Linked DNA regions of Homo sapiens. The protein of the gene in region 1 purifies or fractionates together with the protein of each later gene. This does not show direct contact. Each region holds a gene or a part of one and is shown in the gene's direction. Other genes may lie near its edges. The genes, in order: BSND, ACVR1B, NCAPD3, SLC38A10, SMC2, NCAPG2 and POM121.

Region 1 (4,164 bases):
GGACATGACCTGATAACTCAGCCCTTTCCTGCCCCTCAGCCATCGCTCAGCCAGGGCCCCTGAGCTCCCTCCAGGACCTCCTCTGCGAACTGTCAAGTGCACCTGGACTCTGAGGGCTGGCGATGGTGGGTGTGAGGAAGGAGAAACCCCTGTTGGAAAAAGGGCCTATGAGAAGGACGTCTAGTTAGAGGGGCAGCTGTGAGCACAGGTGTGGGGTTAGGGAACAAGGGCAGCCCTGCTGGCAGGAGGGGAGAAGGTGATGACCGCCAACAGGAAATCCCCAAGCCCAGCAAGTCAGGGAGCCCATTGAAAGCCTTTTATCCTGCATCGGCGATTTAACCCCATGTAAACGCCAAGTGAACATTCTCTTGTAGAGACCGATGGTCCTCATTTTCCTGTAATCCTGTAAAGGAATCTGATTTCTTCCATCAGCCTGTCCCTAGGACTAAAATGCCTCATTAGTGTTATTCTTAGGAAGGCATCTTCCTAGATCAGGCTGCAAGGAAATGGAGGAAGTGACTGTCAGTCACTCACACCCTGCAGGGGCACTAATTCCGAGAGCCTTAGGGGTGGGTGGGGAGCAGTTCATTGAAAGCCCAACTGGGTGGTGCATAGCGTGTGAATGTGAAGGGGATGGAGGAACCCAAGGAGGCCAGGCCTGGAGACAGCACCAAATCTGGGAGGTACATTATTATTCCCATTTTACAGAGGAGGAAACTGAGGTAACCTGATCATGACCACACTGCCCCACAGTAGAGGAGCCAGAATCCAAACCCAGGCAGCCTGCCTTGCCACCAGAGCCACGCTTTTCACCCTCAAGCTGCAGTTAAGAAGTATCACGCCGTGGCTAGGCCCACGGCCTCTGGCTTCACATCCCACTAGCTCTGCCATCTTTAGCTGTGTGACCTTGGGCAAGTTACTTGTCTGTGCCCGAGGGTCCTCTGTAAAGTGGGGATAGTAGTAGCTGCTTCACTGGGTTCCCTTCAATGAGTTAATAGCTGTAACATGTTTAGAATGGTGCCCTGCACATAGTCACCAGCCAGTACATATGGGCCATTATTCCTGAACCCTGGATAGGCACATGTCCTTGAAGAGTGTAGAATTCTTCAGGATTCTGAAATGCCAGCCTGTGGGATCCTGGAATCCTCCAATAGCATTCTAACAGCTCTCAGCTGCAGAACTGTACCCTGTTTTCTAGAGCTGGAAGGTGTGAGGCTGCCTGTCCACCCAGCTCAACCCCACAGTAGGCAAATGAGGTGATGTCAAAGCCTTGGCTGGGGCCCAGCCCCGGTAACCTCCCACTCTCCCTCCCCTGTGTGCTCCCTCGCTCAGATTCACACACACACTCCAGGCCAGCCGGGCCCAGAGGGAAGGTGAGAGGGCAAGGAGTAAAGGTGGCTGGGTGTGGGTCCGTTGAAGCGAGCCGCCTCCAGCCCTGTTGAACTGGTGGGCCCAGGGACTGGAGCGGGATTGAAAGGGATCTTGCTCTCCCTTGAAGCCTTGAGTTGCAGCGATTTCAGTGTCTTCTCTCCCTGTGTAAGCCTGTCTCGGTGTTTAGGCTGAACTACAGCCACCCCCTCTCCCGGGGGTGTGCAGGCCAGGGACTGGCCAGGCAGCCATGGCTGACGAGAAGACCTTCCGGATCGGCTTCATTGTGCTGGGGCTTTTCCTGCTGGCCCTCGGTACGTTCCTCATGAGCCATGATCGGCCCCAGGTCTACGGCACCTTCTATGCCATGGGCAGCGTCATGGTGATCGGGGGCATCATCTGGAGCATGTGCCAGTGCTACCCCAAGGTAGGTGGTAGTGGGGCTGGGTGGGGCCAGGTCAGCTGGGGCCAGGAGGGCTGGACACTGTGCCTGTATGCCATGCCTCACCCCCTATCCTTTAGTTGTCTTTTCATTCTTCTCATTTTGACTCGGTCTTCTCTCTGCTCTCCTGAGCGTCTGTCCCATCCATCCATCCATCCATCCATCCATCCATCCATCCATCCCTTAGCCTAAGGGTTGATCAGAAGGCCCCTGGATCTGGAGCCCTGAGCCGGAAGCTATGGTATAGACACAGCAAACACAACACACCATGTGCTTGAAACAAAAGCTAATGAGCGCTGACCCCCTGCCAGGCACTCCTGCGTTCAGGGTGCAGTTCAGCCCTCATCCTAAGCCTTTTGGTGCTTTCTGTAGTTCCACCTTCTGAGCCTTTCTGAGGTCCAGAAAGAGAGGCTGCACAGCTAACGAGCAAGGTTTGGAGCTCAGATGCGTGTGACTTACACGTCACCCTTCACCTTGGGTCTTCTACCTCTGGGTCCCAGAGCGACTGAGAGCTCCAGGGTAGGTCAGGTCTAACCTTGGTGGCATGCACTGGGCAGTATCCTTTAGAGTCTTCATGTATTCTCAGCCTTATGTGTAATTTAGTGATGGGAAGAGCACTGGTTTGGGAGTCCTGAGTTCTAGTTCAAGTCCTGTTCCAAACTCTCTATGACCTTTGTCTTTCTGAGCCTCATTTTTTTCATCTGCAAATGAGATCCCTGCCCCTATTTTCCACAGAGCTTCACAGGGTCATTATAAAGATCAGAGAAGAGATAAGATATAGGAATATTTTGTAAACTGTAAGGTGTTATTTATAGATGAAGGGCTACCACTGTTACCCATACTGATCCTCCCAACAGCTCTGTGGAATGGAAATGCCAGGAGTTGCGAATCTTCAATGCCTAGAGAGGCTGGGTGACTTCCAAGGTCACACAGCTGGTCAGGTACAGACCCAGGGAGAAAAGGAGGGAAATAGGGACTCTAACTTGGGCTCTGTCTCTTACTGCCTGGGAGACTTTGCTCAAGCCCCTTTCCTCTCTGAGCCTCAGTTTCCTCATTTGTACACTGTGTGAGTTAGGAGGGGGGGGTGGGAAAGGGGGTATATCTGGGGGCCCTGCTGGACCTAATATCTAGGGCTCCAGGTCCAGGCAGTCCTCAGCAACCCCCACACCTCCTCTCCTCCCACCTGGGTGGCTGTGCTCAGGGTTTCAGGGAAGAAGGGGGATGGCTCCCTGGGGCCTGGGCCGGCTCTCCCCAGCCCTGCCCCCTCCACGGGCCAACCCTGGGCTGTCATTCTGTTCAGTGCTGGAGCGGTCTGGGCTGGTTTGTAGTCATTTAGCAGGCAGTTTACAGTCAACTTGCCTCTGTCTGTGCAATTCCTTGAGCAGAGGTCACTGGGAGAAGTCCTTGGGGCCAAAGCCACTCATGTCACCACTGCTATTATAATCCTTCTCCCAGTGAGGAGGCTGGACCCTGGGGGACAGCAGAGGGATGGCAGAGGTGTGGAGAGGAGCATCCTTCCTGCCCCCGCTCTTAAATAGAGCTGGCTCTGGGATGGTTGGTAGGCTGATGGGAGTGACGGTAGAGGGGAGGGGAGGGGAGGAGGGAATATTGCTGGGTATTAATGAGTAACTGTTGATAGATTCATGGGTTCACGTGCTGTGGAGGCAGCGTGGTGGGCTGAAAATGGCACATGTTGTGGCAACCTCCAGGCCCAGATTCAAATCCCTGCTCCTTCATGTCCCACTTCTGTGACCTTGGCAGAAAGAGTCCCTCCCCCTCAGCTCTGAGCCTTGTACGGCTGATTGGGAGAACACAGTGGGATCGTGTGTGTGTGTGTGTGTGTGTGTGTGTGTGTGTGTGTGTGTGTTGGGGGAGACCTGGCATCACACCTGCCATGGAACATATGTGAAGGCATTGTTCTTAGGATTGAGGATTGGTATTTGCGGCACTGGGTGGGCCTCTGCATGAGTGCAGGTGTGTGTGAGTGTGTGTTTCAGAGATGCAGGCTGGTAGAGCCAGCACAAATTGACTCCAATAAGGGAAGGGAGGAAAGCACCTTATAAACCAGGGAGACACTCTAGAGGCGAAGCTCCCTGGATCCTGCTTGGTCTCATTGGTGCCTGGGCCAACGCTGCCTGCAGTGCTCCTGCCTGTCCTCCCCTCAGCCTCCTCCCCGTGGCTCTCTGTGCCAGACCTATGGAAAGTTTTGATAAATGGGGAGATATAAATATAAGGGAATAGAATTAGCTAATTAGGATATAGGGGTGAGGGGTAGCCAATACCAACATGCATTAAGCTGTCCATGTCTTTTAGGGGCTAGAGGTCTAGTGGGAGAGGCTATTTGCTGCCTGATG
Region 2 (3,500 bases), on another chromosome or scaffold:
GTTAGTCCCAGAGGTGCCCGCAGTGTTTAGAGTAGTGGCTTAGCAGCCATAGGCAGCGGTGAGGAGTGGAAGAACCAGGCAGGGATTCCCACGGGAGGATGTGGGACTGATCCAGAAAGAGATGGCCCCAGAGCCGAGCAAAGGTGACTCCTCAAGGGAGGATGATGGTTAGATGTGAGGAGGGACCAGAATAGGAAAAGGCCAGTGACCAAAGCCGAGAAACACCACATACCATCCTTTTGCAAGCCTACCATTCAGGAGGCATTACTGTGGAGCCCACAGGAAAAGGAGAGAAACTAAAGCAGAGCTTAGAGGAGCTGTGGGAAGTTAAAGGGCAGAAACAGGCATCTGTGTAGGGGCCTGAGGCGGGGATAGTACCACGAAATGCGTGAGGTGACAAAGTGGGTTGTGGGTTTGACTGTGGAAAGAGGTGCCTTAACTAAAGAAGTTGGGCATTTGAGAGCATCTAGGCAGCAAGACTAGCCCAGAAGATTAGAGAGATCAAGGGAGCCTGAACACATCGACAGGGAAAGGGGTCTTTTTCACTCTTCACTTTGAGGGGGGTGTTTTTACTCTTTCCCTTGTTTTTACTTCTCATTCTTTCCCTCTCCTCTCTCACTTGACTCAGGTCACCTCAAGGAGCCTGAGCACCCGTCCATGTGGGGCCCGGTGGAGCTGGTAGGCATCATCGCCGGCCCGGTGTTCCTCCTGTTCCTCATCATCATCATTGTTTTCCTTGTCATTAACTATCATCAGCGTGTCTATCACAACCGCCAGAGACTGGACATGGAAGATCCCTCATGTGAGATGTGTCTCTCCAAAGACAAGACGCTCCAGGATCTTGTCTACGATCTCTCCACCTCAGGGTCTGGCTCAGGTACCAAGTTCTTCAGGGCATCATGTCTGTGGTTGGCTTTCATCAGTTTCCCAGCAGGATAGAGTGCTTGTAGAGAAGGCTGGAGGCCCTGCATTTGTTTCTACCAGCATTGAGTCATTTGGTTTCCTAGTTCCCCTTCTTTTGGAGTCTGACGTGTAATAAGATAAGATAATGGGTTCACAGAAAATCTCTCATTCCGTGGGATTCCCAAGGTCTAGTACACAATTATCCACTACAGAAGTCCTGCCTCTCTAAGCTTTGCAACTGTACGTACATCTATTAAAATTCAGCTGGTCCCACCTGAGCAGTGGAGTGCTCAATTTCAGGGCCCCTTTTGAGAAACAGGAGTGTGCCAGATTCCTGTGAGGTGGTGACAGCTAATCATTGATCTCTGAGCAACCACAAGGGGAGTTTAAGGACATCCAGTAAAGCTTAGAGTTGGGATTTGGTGAATCATTGACTTGTACCAGTTGCCCAAGGGTTTTTGGTGGGGGTGAAAATAAAGGCAGTGTGGGCCTCCAGCATAGCATCAGCACTATTTCCTGTACTGCCTTTTGTTGACCAAGTCTTTCTCAGATGAGGGAAATGAACCAAACACTGGACCTTGGCATAAGACGAGAATTTAAGATAAAGGAGCTCGGGGTTGTTTAGGTCTCAGGGTATAGCTCAGCTAGCTATTAAATGTGAACATGAATGCAAAAGAATTTTTTTACTTACTTATTTATGTATTTATTTATTTAGAAACAGAGTCTTGCTCTGTTTCCCAGGCAGGAGTGCAGTGGCGCAATTTCCGCTCTCTGAAACCTCCACCTGCCTGGTTCAAGTGATTCTCCTGCCTCAGCCTCCTGAGTAGCTGGGATTACAGGAATGCGCCACCACAGCGACTAATTTTTGTATTTTTAGTAGAGACAAGGTTTCGCCACATCAGTCAGGCTGGTCTTGTGTTCTTGACCTCAAGTGATCCGCCTGCCTCGTAAAGAATTTTTTTAATGAAGATAAACCATTATTTTTGTGACAATGGTATTGCATTCCTTTTTTTTTTTTTTTTTTTTTGTTTTAAGATATGGTCTCGCTCTGTTGTTGCCCAGGCTGCAGTGCCATTGTGCAATCACAGCTGACTGCAGCCTTAACCTCCTGGGCTCAAGAGATCCTCCACCTTAGTCTCCTGAGTAGCTGAGATGTCAGGCATGTGCCACCAAGCCTGGCAATTTTTTTTTTTTTTTTTTTTTTTGTGGAAGGTTTCACTTTGTTGCCCAGGCTGGTCTCAAATTCTTGGCTTCAAGTCCATTCTTAAAAAAGAAAAAAAACATCCACAAAGATCACTGTTGCCATTCTAGCTAAAACGCAGAGGATCTTATTTGTGAGAACTTTGCGTGTTTTTATGTATGTTTCCTTGACGTGGGACAAGACTGTTGTTCTGTGGGGAAATTATGCCATCAGTCATGCCCAGACATTCTGCTTGACACGGGAGTACTTTGAGCTGTGACATCTCCTGAATTTCAGTGGCTTTGCTTTTATTAAGCTCTGCAGTAGAGAGCACCAAAATGATGGATATATTTAAAAGCTGCATATTTTTAGAAACAGCAAAAATCTAGGGCTTGTTCCTTGTTGAAAGAGGTAGGGCAGTGGTTAGAACCTCCTGGCTGACTGTGGGAATTGATTTGCTGCTAGAGGAGGGTAGATTGGGTTTTCCAAAGTCTTTTTAAGACCCAGACCAGCTGAAACAAGGGAAGGGCCATGGTAGTTGTTTAGTCGTCTGTGGTAAAATGGTTAATAACTATTTCCCTCTGAGTGGTTTAGTATATTCTTCATTCAGAATATGCAGAGCTTCCAAGGTGTTAGGTTTCTAATAATGTGGTTTTTAAAGTAGTAAGTCCATGCTGCTCATATGACTTTCAATTCATTTAAATAAGTATATACTGAATACCTTCTGGGTGATATGGTTTTAAACAGATTAGAAAGAGCCTGACCCGGCCAGGCGCGGTGGCTCACGCCTGTAATCCCAGCACTTTGGGAGGCTGAGGTGGGTGGATCATGAGGTCAGAGGAGATCCAGACCATCCTGGCTAACATGGTGAAACCCTGTCTCTACTAAAAATACAAAAAATTAGCCGGGCGTGGTGGCGGCGCCTGTAGTCCCAGGTACTCAAGAGGCTGAGGCAGGAGAATGGTGTGAACCTGGGAGGCGGAGCTTGCAGTGAGCCGAGATCACGCCACTGCACTCCAGCCTGGGCAACAGAGCGAGACTCCGTCTCAAAAAAAAAAAAAAAAAAAAGGCTGACCCAGGATTGGATCAGAGAGACAGGAATTGTTGGGAAGAGTCTCACAGAGGAGGGCACATTTAAAGGAGTCTTGAGGCCGGGCAGATCACATGAGGTCAAAAGTTTGAGACCAGCCTGACTAACATGGTGAAACCTCGTCTCTACTAAATACAAAAAATTAGCCGGGTGTAGTGGCACACGCCTATAATTCCAGCTACTTGGGAAGCTGAGGCAGGAGAATTGCTTGAACCCGGGAGGCAGAGGTTGCAGTGAGCCCAGATCATGCCATTGCACTCCAGCCTGGGCAGCAAGAGCAAAGCTCCGTCTCAAAAAAAAAAAAAAAAAAAAGGCCAGGCACGGTGG
Region 3 (3,500 bases), on another chromosome or scaffold:
AAGGCCTTTTAAAAGTATTTCAGATGTTCATATCTGAGAGGTGACATTGGTGGCTACCTTTACTGTTGCTTTGCATTGGTGGGCATTGGTCGTATTAGGATGAATCTCCGTTTCAATGCATACCCAAGGAGAACGTTATCAGTTGTCAGCAATTTAGAATCTGTCTGCCTTGTCTTTGAGCCTAATTATCTTGATTTTGATTCCTCCGTGGATAATTACTCAGTTTATGATACTGACTTCTTCCTTCTTATCTTTCTTCTTGTTTTTAGGTCCTACGTTTTCTGTAATAGAGAGTCACCCTGGTACCTTACTGAGAAATTCATCAGGTAATGGATCAATACATTTTCAAATATTGAATGATTATCTTTTAAAAATTTGTGGAATATTTAAAATGTTTTTCTTACCTCCTTATTTACCTGCTTTAACATTGTACTTTTTTCATGAGAGAGGTTGAAATTCATTTCAGTAATAATGTTGTAACTTAAATGAGTAACATGCCCTGCTAATGTTATTAAAAGTATAACACATTTTTAGCTTAATGACTGTAATTTTTTTTTTAAAGCTTTTTCCTACCAAAGGCAGACATCTAACCGTTCCGAACCCTCAGGGGAGATCAACATAGACAGCAGTGGTGAAACAGTTGGATCTGGAGGTATGTCAGATTTTATCACTGTCAGATAGGTAATACTGCTGGATTTCAGACAACCGTAAGTAGAGTCTAAAACCTTGGATTTTTTTTTTTTTTTCTGATTTATTCACCCCTAAGAGTTGAAACAGCTGGCTGGGCGTGGTGACTCATGCCTGTAATCCCATAATCCCAGCACTTTGGGAGGCTGAGGCCTGCAGATCACTTGAGCCCAGGAGTTCAAGACCAGCCTGGGCAACACATCAAGACCCCATCTCTTAAAAAATATATATAAAAATCAGCTGGGCGTGGTGGTGTGCCCCTGTGGTCCCAGCTACTCAGGAGGCTGAGGTGGGAGGATGGCTTGAGCCCAGGAGTTCCAGGCTACAGTGAGCTCTGATCATACCACTGTACTCCAGCCTGGGCGACAGTCTGTTTAAAAAATTAAAAAATGAAAATAACACTGCAGGGCAGTCTGCTTTTTTGTACCAGCTTAGTTACTAAATAGCTGCATGATCTAGGGGTATACCTGTCGTTTTCCGGTTGTAACACCCTCCCATCTTTCCCAGACGACTGTTGGGAAAGTCTGTAGAAACAACATTTAAGAAAGTGATTTAAAGAGAGAGAGACACAGATAAGAGAGAGAAAGAGCATGTACGTAGAGGATTAATTACATAATTGGGTTTATTAATTTATTCAATAAACCTTGATCTGGTCCTTCCCGATGCGTTCCAGGCATTGGAGATGCACAAGTCTGTGAGACAGAGCTCCATCTCTTAAGGATCAGTGGAGAGACAGGTGCTTGTGCACACAAGTGTTCTCATATATACAATTGTGCACACATGTATGCGGAACACTGAGATAGGTGCCGAGATGCACAGAAAGCGCCCTGAGGATGATTACATTACTGCTTTTATTATTCAGCCTAGAAGGTCAGCGTGAAATTGGGTTCAGGAGGCTAGATATTAGCATGTATTACTCCAATTCAGAGCGATAACTACATTTATAATAAACAGGTTTTCTAAATGTGGTAGGAAAATGTACTCTGGAAAAATGCTGAATGTTTGTGTTGGCTCCAGACTTCGTCTAAACAGGTTACGGATTTACGGTGGCACAGACTTTTTCAAGCAATATCAAGTTGAGGTGATTTAATGATGCTTAAAAATTATGAAAGTTCGGGGACGCAAAGAGCCCATGTTTCCAGTGCATTGTTCATAAGCTGAAAGGACATATATTGTTGGCATTAATTGTACATTAAAAATTTTGTATAGTCACTTAGATGCACTTTGCTCTCTTTGCTTTTTCTTATTAAGGCAGAGTTCACACACCATAAAGTTCACCATGGAAAGTGTATAATGTAGTTGTTTTAGTATAGTCACAAGATTGTACAGACTAATTCCAGAACATTCCATCAGCTGAAAAATAAACCCCATAGCCATTAGCAGTCACTCCCCATGCCCCTTTCCTCCTAACACTGGCAACCAGTAATTTTCTTTCCTTATAAAATTGCCTATTCTGGGCCAGGCGTGGTGGCTCACACCGGTAATCCTGGCACATTGGGAGGCCGAGACGGGAGGAGGATCACGAGGTCAGGAGATCGAGACCATCCTGGCCAACATGGTGAAACCCCGTCTCTACTAAAATACAAAAAATTAGCTGGGCGTGGTGGCACACACCTGTAGTCCCAGCTATGAGGAGGCAGAGGCAGGAGAATCGCTTGAACCCAGGAGGTGGAGGTTGCAGTGAGCCGAGATTGCGCCACCGCACTCCAGCCTGTTGACAGAGCGAGACTCTGTCCAAAAAAAAAAAAAAAAAATTGCCTATTCTGGACATTCCGCATAAATGCAGTCATGTACTGTGTTGTCTTTTGTGTCTGACTTCTTTCACCTATAGCGTGTTTTCAAGGCTCATTCATGTTATAGCATCTATCAGTACTTCATTCCTTTTTGTGCTGAGTAATAGTCAGTTATAAGGATACACCACATTTTGTTTATGCATTCATCAGTTGATGAACATTTGGGTTGTTTTCACTTTTTGGCTATTGTGACTAATGCTGCTGTAAGTATTCTTGTATGAGTTTTTGTATAGATGTGTGGTTTCATTCCCTCTGAGTGTATACCTAGGAGGAGAACTGCTGGGTCGTATGGTAACTCTATATTCAACATTTTGAGGAACCACCACACTTTTTCAAAGTGGCCACACCATTTTACAATCCTGCTAGCAACGTATGATAATCCTATTTCTCTGCATTCCTACCAACACTTGCCATGTCTGTCTTTTTTATTTTAGCCATCTTTGTGGGTATGAGGTGGTATCTGCTTGTGGTTTTGATTTACATTTCCCTAATGGCTAATGATGTTGAGTAAATTTTCATAGGCTTATTGGCCATATACATACGTTTTCTTTGGAGAAATGTCTATTCAAGCTCTTTGCCCATTTTTTAATTGGGTTATCTTTTATTTTTGAGTTGAAAGAGTTATTTTTATATATATACCTTATCAGATATATGATTTTTAAAGACTTGTCCCAGTCTGTGGGTTGTCTTTTCAAATGGTATTCTATGAGGCACAAAACATTTTAATTTTGATGAAGTCCAATTTATCTTTTTCTTTTTTTACTCATGCTTTTGGTATCACATAGCTAAGAAATCGTTGTGTAATCCAAAGTCACAAAGATTTACTCCTGTGTTTTCTTCTAAGGGTTTTATAGTTTTAGCTCTCACATTTAGGTCTTTGATCAATTTTCAGTTAATTTTTGAATATGGTGTGATATAGGGGGTCCACCTTCACTCCTTTGCATGTGACTATCCAGTTGACATAGCACTGTTTCTTTCAGCCTGTTCCTTCACCTGTGAGTGTCTTGGCACCCTTGTAAA
Region 4 (3,500 bases), on another chromosome or scaffold:
GCTATTGTTGTTTGTTTGTTTGTTTGTTTTTTGAGACGGAGTCTCACTTTGTCGCCCAGGCTGGAGTGCAGTGGCGCAATCTCGGCTCACTGCAACCTCCATCTCCTGGGTTCAAGTGATTCTCCTGCCTCAGCCTCCCAAGTAGCGGGGATTACAGGTGCCCGCCACCACACCTGGCTAATTTTTTTTATTTTTAGTAGAGAAGGGGTTTCACCATCTTGGCCAGGCTGGTCTCGAACTCCTGACCTTGTTACCCACCCGCCTCAGCCTCCCAAAGTGCTGGGGTTACAGGCATGAGCCACCACGCCCGGCCGCTATTATTTTTCTAAATGAGAATTTATAATAGGATGGACTAGGGGCCAGCTGTGGAGTTGGCACTGAGAACACGGATACCACCCAGAGCCCCCAGCACACCCTCCATTCTCTGCCAGGCCCCTGCCCATAGGAGCCCCAGGACCCGAGCCCCTGGGACCTTCCTGTTCCCTGGCAAGGTCAGAAATGACCCTTCCTGAGTGGCTGGAACCTGGGTGTCTCACAGCGGGTTTGCACCAGGACGAGGCCAGGTGGTCATTGAAGCCAGGGTCTCCAGTGCTCCTCAGCTCTCCGAGTGAGGGCCAGCCCAGTGGCAGCTACCTCTTTACTCTTGAGACAGCCGCGTCCTGGTGGGCCAGTCTTTTGGAAAATGTCCATGTCTAACACAGTACAAGATGGGGAGGGACCTGCCCACGTGGGAAACCAGCCTCTGTAACCGACGGAAACTGGGGCCATGCATGCTCAGTGGTCTCCTCCCGTCTGCGCCAAGCAGCCCCCTTGCAAGAGCAGCTGCTCTGGTGCCCGCGGGATGAACCAGGGTGCTCTGAGGCAGGGGTTGGGAATCCAGAAAGGCGCGGGGTCTCCCTGCCTCCAGCTGGCGGCACAAGGCGGCACAGGGCGGCACAGGGTGGTGGGGGGCTGGGATGTGGGTGGGAAGAGCTGCACTCTCCTGCCACTCCTTCCTAGCGGCGCGTGGGCCGGGATGCTGAGTCCCGCCTGCGTCCTGACCTGCCCCGTGCTCTCTCCCCTCTCCCTCTGCAGATCGTGCTCTCCTCTCTCAAGCACGGCCTCTTCAGTGGGCAGTGGCTGCGGCGGGTCAGCTACGTCCGCTGGGAGGGCGTCTTCCGCTGCATCCCCATCTTCGGCATGTCCTTCGCCTGCCAGTCGTAAGTGTCCTGCTGTGGTCTGTGGTGGAGTTCTGTGACGGGGAGGGCGAGCTGCTGGGAGACGGGACCCTCTCTTTCTCGTTTACTGTGATCGCTCTTTGCTGGCTGCTAAAGAGTGATGTCTTGTTCAGTGATGACCTTTCCCGCCCCAGGTTGAGGGAGATAGTTATATTTTAATCGGGAGGTAAATCGGCTTCATTCCTGGGACATGTTTGGGACTAGCTGGTGAGAGTCCCTGGTTTGCCAGATCCCCACAAGCAGAGCATTGGCTGTGGGGGATGCAGCAGCAACCCAGCCATCTGACTGCACAGAGTCGAGCGCTTCGCCAGAATTTAGCTGTTCTGAGAATATTTAAAAGGAAATGGCACAAACATTGACTTCAGACGGCTGCTGGATGCATTTGGAGGCCTGCATGTGCGCGCGAGCCTGCTTTCTCTCTGGCACGCAGGGCTCTGTAAATGTGGATCGGGCTCTTCCATAATTCCAGCAGCATTACCTTCTCCACCAAAATGACAAGAGCGAGTGATTCGTGCCCGGTTGGAACATGGTAACCGGCTGAAAAGAGAGGCGTAAATCCGGCGCAGACGGGAAAAGACCATCGGCATGCGGGGGGCTGGCAGAGCGGCCCCTGTAGCGTTAGTGGGCATGCATTGAGCCAATCGTAAACTAATGTGACAGATGAAATTTGTTCATACCGCTGTGTTTACACCCACATGCGAGATCCAAATCGTCATTTCCCACTTAGCGTCTCTCTTGGCAGCTCCATCTCCACCAGAACGCGCCCCAGTCTTGCTGTTTAATATCCCATTATGATCGGTGACAGAAGCCGCATTCTTCCGCCACGTACCTAGTTACCAGTTGCCCTTTGTGTCTGCGTGTTTGCATATTTAGAAATAAATCTGCAGCTGGGGCTTTTTGGTGGTGGCCACGTAGCAGCCGGTGCACCTCGTTCGGGTCTGGTTCCGGAGTCAGGTGCTGGGTTGAAGCGCTGGAGCGTGCGGCTCAACAAGTGCAGCTTTCCTTCTGTCCCGCCCTGAGGATGTGCAGGCCCACGGATTCACCTGACATTCTCCCCAGCAGGGACATCCCTCCTTGTGCTGGCCGCTGCGCTGACCTCCCCACCCCTGTGCCGGCCGCCGTGCTGACCTCCCCACCTCTGAACCCAGGAATGTTTTCTGAGAGCAGAGACATCTCTTCCCTCCCACAGCGTCACTGCACCAGAGTGCCTGTCCCTGTTGGGTGGCGGGCCGCGCCCCCTGCCTGTGTGATTGGCCTGGATGCCAGCTGGGGCCAGGTCTCCCTTGTGCCTTCACTATCTGGCCGTTTTTGGTAAATGCATACCTGGTTATGCAGAATGGTTGTCCTAGGCCCAGAGAAGCAGCCGGGCAGCACTGAGCCCAGGAGGCCCTGGAGGTCAGGGTCTATCTGGAGACCAGGGTCCCCATCCTCACAGTAGGGCAGAGGGGCACACACCCAAGAGCTGCATGTGGATGGCTCCATTTGACTCTGGTAGGCCCTGAGGCTCAGAGGCTGCCTTGCAAGGTGGGCGGGCCAGGGATGCTCCGTCTGGGGCCATGGGCCAGCGCTCAGCATGTCCCCCATCTGTGGAGCTCCTTTGCAGGTGGCCAGGAGGTTTTGTGGCTCCTACCTTGTTTCTTTCCAGGGATGATCCCGGGGGTCCCTGGGGTAGGTGGTCAGGATTGGAGAGGAGCCTGGGGCTTGGCCTTCCACCCTGGCCACCCCGTGTGCGTGGGACACCCCTTCCCACAGTGTCCGTGGCTTCCTTGGGGGTCACTCCCCACAGGGTGTATTGGGGGCTGGGGGTAAGCACGTGTCATGGGGCACCAACGCTGGTCCCCTCAAGCCAAGACTCCCTGGTGTGGACTCAGCTGTGGCGAGAGGACAGTTTAGCACTGGGAAGTTCATGCCGCAACATGGCCTTCTTCTGTAGCTGTGGGTCTAGGGCCGTGGAGACCTCTTGGGTGTTTCTCCTGATTCTCTGCCAGCCTCCTGGGGCTGTGTGCACAGGCGTTGGCCACTTAGCTCCCTTCTAGCCTGGGCCGAGGGGAAGGCTCATGTCCTGCGGGGTCCCCTGACTGCTGCTGATGGCACTCCATGCTGAGGGCGGCCTGATGGGATGGTGTGCTAGGACCTGGGCAACGGGACACCAGCAGCTGCTGGCAGGACCTTCTCACTTGTCAGTCTGCTGGGTTTTCTTTTTTTTGGAGATGGGGTCCTGCTGTGTCACCCAAGCTGGAGTGCAGTGATGCGATCACAGCTCACTGTAGCCTCGACCTCCCG
Region 5 (3,500 bases), on another chromosome or scaffold:
TGTTTAAATCTGCAATTATTATTTAGCCCAATGTCTCATGGATTTAATTTATAACATGGAATGAACCAGTAGTATAAGAGTTATATTTATTCTAAAAACTGAGAGTGAATTTCAAAATGATAATTCAGTATTTATAAAGTTATGATGGTTAAATTATTTTATTATGCTCACTCCAAATTGCTATGGAATTTTATTACATAAGGGTATGCGTATAAGAAAGTGGGTGTTTTTCCTGAAATATAATATTTTTCCATTTGAAACTCTTCCTAAAGGACTCAAAAACTTTAGCAGCAAAGGAAAAAGAGGTTAAAAAGATAACAGATGGACTGCATGCCCTTCAAGAAGCAAGTAATAAAGATGCTGAAGCTCTGGCAGCTGCACAGCAGCACTTCAATGCTGTTTCCGCTGGCCTGTCCAGTAATGAAGATGGAGCAGAAGCAACTCTTGCTGGTCAAATGATGGCCTGTAAAAATGATATAAGTAAAGCTCAGACAGAAGCCAAACAGGTAAATAGAGACATTAGCACTATGTGATTGCTTTTTTTTCCAAGAAGTTTCTTTTCATGTTATGCTTTGGCAATTGTTACATAATGTTGAAAATAATCAGTCTCAAGGAACTTGTTTGTTTACTTTATTCTGCAACTCTAATGCCTAATGCAGCGAAATTCAAATATGTTGATTGCTAAATATTGGTGATGTTAATTTGTGAAGATGCTGTACTACATAAATTATCTTAATTCGGTATGTAAGTGCAATAAATGCTTTGTTCTGTTTGCAGCATTGTGTGGAATTTTCGAGATTAATGCATTTATTCTTGTCTCTTTTTGGCTATTTTTATTTTTTATTGATAACATAATGTTGAAGTCTTAAGCTTTAACAGGAAAACAGGATTGTCCTCCCCATTGCTTTGCCTGCCATACCTAGTTCTTAAAACCTTGTTTCTCAAACTTTACATTTTTTTAGGAAGTATCTCTACCTCACATGTAGCCACATTCTAGTCTGCTCTCCCTACTCTGATTTCATAATCTTAAAAGTCTTGTCAGTCTATTATAATGTTTCTCAGATTTTACATAGTAGTGCAACTTACAGTCCTATGAACATAAGAATTTTGCTAGCAGAAAAAATACATGTACACAGGCACATCATTGTTTTGTTTTTAATGGAAGACACAGATTTTAAAACATGTACACAAATGTGTGTGATTATGCGTTAATCCTCAGGTTTTTCTCTTTATATATTTGCAACTTTTTCATTCAGGCATGACAGATGATAGTCACAAATTTATAAGAACTCTCAATAGTAGAAAAGCTTTAAAGTACTCTACTCTCAGTTTGTCTATTATTTTATAAGGGAACTGGGAAAAATACATCATTATACAGTTTTGGAGGATACCCCCATCTAAAACCCCATCTAGGTTTTAGAATACTAGTTCATAGTTTTAAGAAGCAGTGTTCAAGTGTATAAATTCTTGAAGGCCTGACACATGTAATTTAAATAGTTCTAGCATTTAATTATCAGACTCAGCATTTAAGTTTCTCTGTCAGTTTAGCTTCTTTTCCTGTATAATCTTACGTCTTATTGCTCAATTCAGTTTCTTTACTGTTATTAGATAGCACTCACAAATATATACACATACAAATATGAACAACTAAGCGGAAAGGAAAAGAACGAGAGTTGTGATTTCTAGCGTTCTTTTTTTAATTACCAGCTACTGACAGTTATTCGATATAATCCTTCAATTTGAATATGTCATATTTTATTAAAAATACGGACTTAAATTTCAAATTCTTTTACATATTAATCATATATTAGTTTATACTTTGAGTAGTTTTTTGAGGAGAAAATACTGGGAAATGACTAATTTGTTGAAATACTAATCCAAGAGACCAAACAATTAAACTTTGAAGGTTAAGGTCTCTTAGTAAAACCAATCTGAATCTTCGGCCATTTAATTACTAGCACTGTCTGCCTCATACATCCTATGGTCTGTTGCATTTTTCTGCCACAGGCTCAGATGAAGTTGAAGCATGCTCAACAGGAATTAAAGAATAAACAAGCTGAAGTTAAGAAGATGGATAGTGGCTACAGGAAGGATCAAGAAGCTCTAGAAGCTGTAAAAAGACTTAAAGAAAAACTTGAAGCTGAAATGAAAAAGCTAAATTATGAAGGTTTGCCTTTAAAAACATGATAATCAGATCATGAGGAGGTAGTGATTTTTGATAAAAAGCTAATTTAAATAAAGAACGCAAGCAAGTAGGAAACATTTCTTAGCCTATTAACAAGCATTAGTATAAGAAGTGTTGTAAATATCGTCAAAAAATACCTAATTATAAAACAACTCTTGAATTTTTGAGAACTCAGTATTGAGAATTTCCTGCTTCAATCATTTGAAAGCTCAAAAATGTCATTTGTGTATTTCTACATTAGGCATTCAGTTTGTATGTTATTTTTTGGAATGAAAATTGTGTTATTTGCCGTTGGAAATAATGTCTGTTTGACAGTGGATAGAAATAGGAAGGTTCAGCATGCTTTTTTAATACTTACAGAAATTTGTATTTTTTGCATGCTTTGGAAATAGTGGTTGCTAATATTTTCCTTAAAACAGTAGAGTGAGCTTTTAAAACTTGGTTTTAATTTATTATGATTTATCCTTCAGAAAATAAAGAGGAAAGCCTTTTGGAAAAGCGCAGGCAGCTGTCTCGTGATATTGGTAGATTGAAAGAAACATATGAAGCTCTATTAGCCAGATTTCCCAATCTTCGATTTGCATACAAGTAAGAGACTTAAGCCTTGAATTTTAACATAGTAATAATCAAGACATTTTTATTTAAGCTGGAAGCAGTGTGAAAATTTTGTCGAAACCAAGATTTTTGTATGAAACTTGTTGTAAGCTGCTTTTCTTTCATTGGTATTTTTCCTTTAAACATTTGTTGAAATGTTTTAAATGTTGGCAGGGAAATTCTTGTGAAATTTAATGGCTAATGATGCCACTAATCTTAAAATGAGGGAAATTTAATCTCAGTTCAAAATGTCTTCAGAGTTACTGTATCATTAATGTTAAATATCCACATTTACATCTTATAATTTGTTTTGCTATGTGGGTTTTTTATGGAATATTTACAGTAATCATATGTATTATAGGGATTAGAACATCAGAGTTGTTCTTACTACATTGAAACATACTGAAAGATCTATTGTGATTTAAAAACAACAGCTGGCTAGTCATTTGGGACATTTTAAAATTTTTGGTTTGTTAAAACCATTTTGCTGATTCTACTTTCATTTCACTTTAATGTGTTGTCCAAAAGAGCTCCTGATGAGTAAAGTATAACTTTTTCTACTTTATTATCTAAGATTAATTTTTGTCAACTTTTGTATTTCAGGGATCCAGAGAAGAACTGGAATAGAAATTGTGTGAAAGGACTTGTGGCTTCTCTGATTAGTGTGAAAGACACTTCTGCAACCACAGCTTTAGAATTAGTGGCTGGAGAACGACTCTAC
Region 6 (3,500 bases), on another chromosome or scaffold:
AATTCATTTTATTCTGCTTTAATTTTAACAGTCTTTTTTTTTAAACGAATTTGAGGCTGGATGCTTTTTATAGCTTATTTAGTGGTATGCTTCCATCATCCATACCCAATGAAATTGGTGTGGATAATTTAAAAGTATTCATGTGTAAAACCACCCTTTAATAAATACAGACACTGTCTTTTTATCTTACGGTTTTTCTCAAAAAATTGATTCTGCTGTGTTTCTTGTGGCTGTGATCACCAACATGTGATCCTAACCTGACATAGAAGGAAAGGTGGCGAAGTTTTGAGTCCTCGTGTTTGACACATTTTACAGACGTTAGTGCTGAGGGGACTTGCACATGGTCTGGTCTGTGTGTCTTGTTACATATCAGGAGAACCCTGGCCCAGGGAGCTTTTTGTCTAAGCTTTTTGTCACTGTCCCTTCCAACTTTAAAATTCCTTCATTTTGTTTTCTTCATTTGTTCTTTAGTAGTTCTTATTTCTCTGATTTACATAGTGTGTTCAATTCTTGCTTCAGGTAATAGAAGAATGAGTAAATTTGTATTGCAGTAGTGTTCCAGTAGCAGGAGAAAAATGGCCTGGGTTTAAACCCAGACTGCCCTTCCCATCTGAGTGGTCATGGGCAGTTTGCTTTACCACTTTTGCCTCAGTTAGCTTATCTGTTACAGGATAACGATAAAGAGTCATTCTTGTTGCCAGTCTAGACTTAGGTCAGTGTAAGTAGCTCTTTACTACCTGGTAAATGAGAACACTTGGCCCTCCGTATCCATGGGTTCCACGTTCGTAAATCCAACCAACCATAGTTTGACAATATTTGGGACAAAAATGGATGGTTGTGCCTGTACTGAATATGAACAGACTTTTCCTTGTCATTATTCCCTAATATAATATAACAGTATAGGATAAACAATATAGTATATAGTATAACAACTATTAGTATAGTATAACAATATAGACGATATAGTATATAGACAATATAGTATAACAATTATTACCATAGCATTTACCTTGTATTAGGTATTATAAGTAGTCTAGAGATGATTTAAAGCATACAGGAGGATGTGGGTAGACTATATGCAAACACTATACCAGGGACTTGAACATCTGTGGATTTTAGTATCTGGGGGGTCCTGGAACACATCTCCCACAGATAGTGAGGGTTAACTGTACTTTTAACGTAACATTTTTCTCTAAAGTATTTTTAAATTCATGTTCACTTAAGGAGACAATATTATTTTTGAGTAATTAAAAATTAATTTTAGGCCAGGTATGGTGTCTGTAATTCCATCACTTTGGGAGGCTGAGGCGGGCAGATTGCTTAAGCTGAGTTCACTACTAGACTGGGTAACATGGTGAAACCCCATCTCTACAAAAAATACAAAAAAATCTGCTGGGTGTGGTGGTGTGCACCATAGTCCCAGCTACTTGGGAGGGTGAGCTGGGAGGATTGCTTGAGCCCGAGAGGTCAAGGCTGCAGTGAGCTGTGACCTCACTGCTGCACTTCAGCCTGGGTGACAGAGCGTGACCCTGTCTCAAAAAAAAAAATTAATTTTAGATTTTGGAGGGTTCATGACTTCCTGGGCCTGTTCTCCTCTGTCTTGCCTCTGGCTGCACTGCTGCTGAGCCAGGCAGTTGCTGGGCTGACAGGTGGGCGGAACCTGGTCTGTGGACAGAGAGCACTCTCTTCTCCTTGGGGGACTCAGGGAATGGGCAGGAGACCCTGAGGCAGCAGGTCCAGTAGAGGCCCAGCGAGGCTGGGAGAGTGAAGGGGCTGTGGGGCACCCAGAGTCTCCTGTGTCGCTGCATGGCAGCCTCCACATAGCTGTGCCCTCACCCCTGGTTCAACACAGGCAGAAATAACCACACAGAGGGTGGCCCAGGCGCTTCCAGAGTGATAGTGGTGGGTGAGTAATAAGAGTCTTTGAAGAAGAGTCAACTGTAACCCCGAAAGGACAGTCTAGAGCTCAAGTGTCACAGACACACTACAGAGATGGTTCCTGTGATAGTCAAATTCCAGAAAGGTCAATTTGGAGAGATGTCTCAGAACATAGACCATAAATACTCACGAGGAGAGGTCACGAGGGTGGGGATAGACTTGGGGGAAAAGGCCCGAGAGACCTAACAGCAAGGAGAAGCAGTGATTCAACAACGATAGGAAAAAATTCCCCAGAGCTTAAAGAAATATATGCAGATTCCCTTTTTTCTTTCACTACATTCTGGATTGATGGAAAAAAAAAATCACAGCTAAATAATTATGGATAAGATTCCTAAATTCCAGGAATAAAGAGAAAATCTTAAAATTTTTCTAGATTCATGCAGGCCAATACAGTGGCTGCTGAACACATGAAACCTGGTGAGTCTAAGCTGAGTGTGGCCCTCATAGAAAGTGCAAGCAGGTTTTGAAGACAGTATGGAAAAGAGAATGTGAACTATGTCATAAATAATTTTATATTGATTACAAGTTGAAGCATTTTGGATATGTTGGGTTAAATAAAATATATTAAGATGAATTTTGCTTAAAAAAATAAAAAGAAGCAAGGTCTTGATCCATTGTACCCTTTGACCTGTTTCAATGTGATTACTGGAAAATGTAAAATGACGCATGTGACTGGCATTGACATTACAGGGGCTGTGGTAGACAGCAGTCTGTCTCCAAAGGTGAAGACCAGGTAGACATGAGTCTCACTTGCAGTGCTGGACACAGGAAGACAATAGGATTGTAAGAGTTTTAAATCTCGCTGAGATTCATTTGGAGTGAAAGGTAGATATTTGTGTCCAGGAGGAATTCAGAGATGAGCTTTTCTTTATTGCTTCTCTGAGGAGACTGCTTTGGAGTGCCCTGTAATGGAACAAGCATTGGAGCCATGCAGGAGTTGTGGGACAGTAAAAAGGGAAGCCATGGTGAGCCACGCACTTTGTAAATATGTGTATTTGAAGGAACAGTGATATGCTACCTGTCTAATAATGATTCTTAAAATAGGCACACTGCCAGGGAAGTGAGGACAACGTCTGGCAAGGAAAAGTACTCAGTGCTCTCAGCCAAAGCCGCGGCCTAGGTGGGGCTGGGGAGGACGTGAGGAGGAAGAGTCTCGCCTTGAGGGACAGGGATGTAGGGCAGGGGAGTGGGAAAGTGAGGTTTTTCTAAAGGCTTCAGGTTATTAGAGGTAGTAGGTAAATGTCATGGTAGTAGAGTATCTTGGTAGGTCACATAGTTTTTATTTATCTTGTTTTCTTGTGTAATAGAGAAATAGGCTCAGAACTGTGGGTGCTGGAAAGGAAGAGCACACGTCCTGTTTGCTCACCAGCATAGCACACTGCCCAGTGAGCACGTTTCATTGCCTGGCAGTGCTTGGTGTCCACGGTCAACCCAAGCCTGTGCTCCAGTGCCATGTGTCCTGACTGCTGTGGGGATTCTGACTCCATTTTACATACAAGAAACAATTAATGAAACATCTATAGATTATTTCAACTTTGTTTTTAAATGCATGGTTGCAAACC
Region 7 (3,352 bases), on another chromosome or scaffold:
AGCAAAGCTTCCTGTTTGGAACACAGAACACCTCACCTTCCAGCCCTGCCGCCCCTGCTGCATCTTCAGCACCTCCCATGTTCAAGCCCATTTTCACGGCTCCACCCAAGAGTGAGAAGGAAGGCCCCACACCGCCTGGCCCTTCAGTCACAGCCACAGCGCCCTCCAGCTCCTCCCTCCCCACGACCACCAGCACCACAGCCCCGACCTTCCAGCCTGTCTTTAGCAGCATGGGGCCACCTGCATCTGTGCCCTTGCCTGCTCCCTTCTTCAAGCAGACAACTACTCCCGCCACTGCTCCCACCACAACTGCCCCGCTCTTCACTGGCCTGGCCAGCGCCACCTCTGCTGTGGCTCCCATCACCTCTGCCAGTCCATCCACAGACTCTGCTTCGAAGCCTGCGTTTGGCTTTGGCATAAACAGTGTGAGCAGCAGCAGTGTGAGTACCACGACCAGCACCGCCACTGCCGCCTCACAGCCTTTCCTCTTCGGGGCGCCCCAGGCCTCTGCTGCCAGCTTCACCCCGGCCATGGGCTCCATATTCCAGTTTGGCAAACCTCCTGCCTTGCCCACAACCACCACAGTCACCACCTTCAGCCAGTCCCTGCACACTGCCGTGCCAACGGCCACCAGCAGCAGCGCTGCCGACTTTAGTGGTTTTGGCAGCACCCTCGCCACCTCCGCCCCGGCCACCAGCAGCCAGCCCACTCTGACGTTCAGTAACACGAGCACCCCCACGTTCAACATTCCCTTTGGCTCAAGCGCCAAGTCCCCGCTCCCATCATATCCGGGAGCCAACCCCCAGCCCGCATTTGGGGCCGCTGAGGGGCAGCCACCGGGGGCCGCCAAGCCGGCCCTTGCCCCCAGCTTTGGCAGCTCTTTCACTTTTGGAAACTCTGCAGCCCCGGCTGCTGCACCCACACCTGCACCTCCGTCCATGATCAAGGTCGTGCCTGCGTACGTGCCTACGCCCATCCATCCTATCTTTGGCGGTGCCACGCACTCGGCGTTTGGGTTGAAAGCCACGGCTTCGGCCTTCGGCGCTCCCGCCAGCTCACAGCCCGCCTTTGGCGGCTCCACTGCTGTCTTCTTCGGTGCAGCCACCAGCTCCGGCTTTGGAGCCACCACCCAGACCGCCAGCAGCGGGAGCAGCAGCTCGGTGTTTGGCAGCACAACACCATCACCCTTCACGTTTGGGGGTTCGGCAGCCCCCGCTGGCAGTGGGAGCTTTGGGATCAATGTGGCCACCCCAGGCTCCAGCACCACCACCGGAGCTTTCAGCTTTGGAGCAGGACAGAGTGGGAGCACAGCCACCTCCACCCCCTTCGCAGGGGGCTTAGGTCAGAACGCCCTGGGCACCACCGGCCAGAGCACACCGTTTGCCTTCAACGTGAGCAGCACAACTGAGAGCAAACCTGTGTTTGGAGGTAAGGAGGGGCGTGGACTTGGGCTACCGGGCCGGACACTGAAAAGCTGTGCCTGCGAAGCCTGTGGTCTCGGGGAGCTTATGCTGTGGCAGTGAAGAGACAGGCACTGAATATAGAACTCAGTGAGATGCCAGGGAACGATACATGTTTTGCTAACGTAGTAATGACTGGAGGAGCCATTGTGGATTTAACTGGTCAAAGGCCTTCTGAGTAGTTAACAATTGTAAGCTGAAGGTTGGGCGCAGTGGCTCACGCTTGTAATCCCAATATTTTGGGAGGCCAAGGAGGGTGCATCACTTGAGGCCAGGAGTTCAAGACTAGCCTGGACAACTTGGCGAAACCCTGTCTCTACTAAAAATACCAAAAAATTAGCCGGGCGTGGTGGTACCCACCTGTAATCCCAGCTACTCAGGAGGCTGAGGCACAAGAATGGTTTGAACCCAGGAGTTGGAGGTTGCAGTGAGCCAAGATCATGCCACTGTACTCCGGCCTGGGTGACAGAGCAAGACTCTGTCTCAAAAAACAAACCGTAAGCTGAATATGGGGGTGGGCACAGCACAAGTGGACATGCCTTTCAGGCCCAGGATGGCGCATGCAAAGGCCCAGAGGCAGAAACATGTTTGGTATGTTGAAGAGCAGAACAAAGACAAGCATGGCAGGAGGGCAGGAGCTAAAGCAGTGGTGTGGAAGGAGGCCAAGAGGCAAGGATTGTTTGTGGCCAGGGTTGGGTGTTTGGGTCTTAAGTGTTCAGGAAAACCATTGCAGAATCAGGCAGAAGGATGCAGTGATGGTTCCTCCCATGTGGAAGATGAATGTAGATCCCATGGCTTCTGTTTGCTTCGTGAAGTAGAGAAAATCTGGGAGAGAGAGGGTCAGGATAAAGTGTATAAAAAAAGGGGTCTTTTGAAATAGTCATTTTGGACAGTGGGGGAAAGGAACATCATATTAAAAAGTGTGATCAGTTTCCAGGCAGTTTGTGGGCTGGAAAATTGTGATTGTGAAGTTAAAGTGAGGCCAGTTAGCATGGCATGTGTTTCCCAGCGACACTGTGGGTGTAGACCTAAGGTCAGCGGACAGCTGGTGCCACCCGGCCATGGAGACCCCAGCAAGCACAGCAGGAGGGGCAGCGGGTCAGTGCCCCGATGCAGCTCAGGGGGTGCAGGAGTGGAGAGCGGGTGAAGTCAGCTGCAGGAGGGGTGGTGCCTACAGGAGATTCGGGAGCCGGAGCAGTTGTGGTGACAGTGTGGCTGCAGGAGTGGTGGCAGGGGTCGGGGAGAGGAGGTCATGGGGGTGGCAGGGTTGAGGGGCTGAGAGGACCATCAGTCAGCCTCACAGGGCGAAGTCACCGTGAGTGGTGATGGGAAGGAAGCCAGTGAGCCAAGGGTCCTCTGTGAATCAGGGAGTGACCTGGCAGTTGACAGGTGACATGAGGACATGGCAGATTAAAGTGATCTGAACTTGAGTTACGGTATTTAGGGAAGGAAGAGAAACAGTGTGGAAGCAGCGTGGGAGCACAGGGAGCTTCCTCTTGTCCGGGCCGGAGGCCAAGCCCTGAGAGCAGCCATCCCTGCAGAGGGGCTGCCAGAGAGGGCCTCGGGCAGGCAGCCAGAGCCAGTCAGGGCAAGGCCGGGGAAGGGAGGGGACCACGGGGCATCACAAAAGACGCGGGACGGACAAACCAGGCTTCAGAGGGGAGGGGACGGTGGCTGGGGGAAAAGGCCTGAACAGAGGAGGTAGCCAACCCAGGTACGCTAGGAGGCGGGGGCCCCAGAGTACTCCCCTCTGCAGCGATGGTCAGGAGGCCCACGAGGTGGCTGCGGGGCAGGGGGGCTTTTTCTCTGCCCTGGCGTGGCCATTAGCGGGTGGGAGAAGCAGGCTGAGCTGGGGCACCAGGCATGAAGACTCGGTTGTCTGGCTCAGCTGC

Evidence for each region.
Region 2: the proteins of BSND (region 1) and ACVR1B purify together in Homo sapiens (affinity purification with mass spectrometry; one large-scale study listed by BioGRID and IntAct). This does not show direct contact.
Region 3: the proteins of BSND (region 1) and NCAPD3 purify together in Homo sapiens (affinity purification with mass spectrometry; one large-scale study listed by BioGRID and IntAct). This does not show direct contact.
Region 4: the proteins of BSND (region 1) and SLC38A10 purify together in Homo sapiens (affinity purification with mass spectrometry; one large-scale study listed by BioGRID and IntAct). This does not show direct contact.
Region 5: the proteins of BSND (region 1) and SMC2 purify together in Homo sapiens (affinity purification with mass spectrometry; one large-scale study listed by BioGRID and IntAct). This does not show direct contact.
Region 6: the proteins of BSND (region 1) and NCAPG2 purify together in Homo sapiens (affinity purification with mass spectrometry; one large-scale study listed by BioGRID and IntAct). This does not show direct contact.
Region 7: the proteins of BSND (region 1) and POM121 purify together in Homo sapiens (affinity purification with mass spectrometry; one large-scale study listed by BioGRID and IntAct). This does not show direct contact.

What each region holds. Positions count from the first base shown.
Region 1 is NC_000001.11:54,997,569-55,001,732, forward strand, and holds the start of BSND (barttin), read left to right. Parts: upstream 1-1,364; 5' UTR 1,365-1,618; coding exon 1,619-1,795; intron 1,796-4,164.
Region 2 is NC_000012.12:51,975,699-51,979,198, forward strand, and holds part of ACVR1B (activin receptor type-1B isoform a precursor), read left to right. Parts: intron 1-628; coding exon 629-877; intron 878-3,500. UniProt on the Homo sapiens protein: Transmembrane serine/threonine kinase activin type-1 receptor forming an activin receptor complex with activin receptor type-2 (ACVR2A or ACVR2B).
Region 3 is NC_000011.10:134,199,968-134,203,467, reverse strand, and holds part of NCAPD3 (condensin-2 complex subunit D3), read left to right. Parts: intron 1-269; coding exon 270-326; intron 327-562; coding exon 563-652; intron 653-3,500.
Region 4 is NC_000017.11:81,278,308-81,281,807, reverse strand, and holds part of SLC38A10 (solute carrier family 38 member 10), read left to right. Parts: intron 1-1,074; coding exon 1,075-1,199; intron 1,200-3,500. UniProt on the Homo sapiens protein: Facilitates bidirectional transport of amino acids. May act as a glutamate sensor that regulates glutamate-glutamine cycle and mTOR signaling in the brain. The transport mechanism remains to be elucidated.
Region 5 is NC_000009.12:104,111,309-104,114,808, forward strand, and holds part of SMC2 (structural maintenance of chromosomes protein 2), read left to right. Parts: intron 1-272; coding exon 273-506; intron 507-2,007; coding exon 2,008-2,167; intron 2,168-2,655; coding exon 2,656-2,773; intron 2,774-3,382; coding exon 3,383-3,500. UniProt on the Homo sapiens protein: Central component of the condensin complex, a complex required for conversion of interphase chromatin into mitotic-like condense chromosomes.
Region 6 is NC_000007.14:158,631,805-158,635,304, reverse strand, and holds part of NCAPG2 (condensin-2 complex subunit G2), read left to right. Parts: intron 1-3,500. UniProt on the Homo sapiens protein: Regulatory subunit of the condensin-2 complex, a complex which establishes mitotic chromosome architecture and is involved in physical rigidity of the chromatid axis.
Region 7 is NC_000007.14:72,942,095-72,945,446, forward strand, and holds part of POM121 (nuclear envelope pore membrane protein POM 121), read left to right. Parts: coding exon 1-1,428; intron 1,429-3,352. UniProt on the Homo sapiens protein: Essential component of the nuclear pore complex (NPC). The repeat-containing domain may be involved in anchoring components of the pore complex to the pore membrane. When overexpressed in cells induces the formation of cytoplasmic annulate lamellae (AL).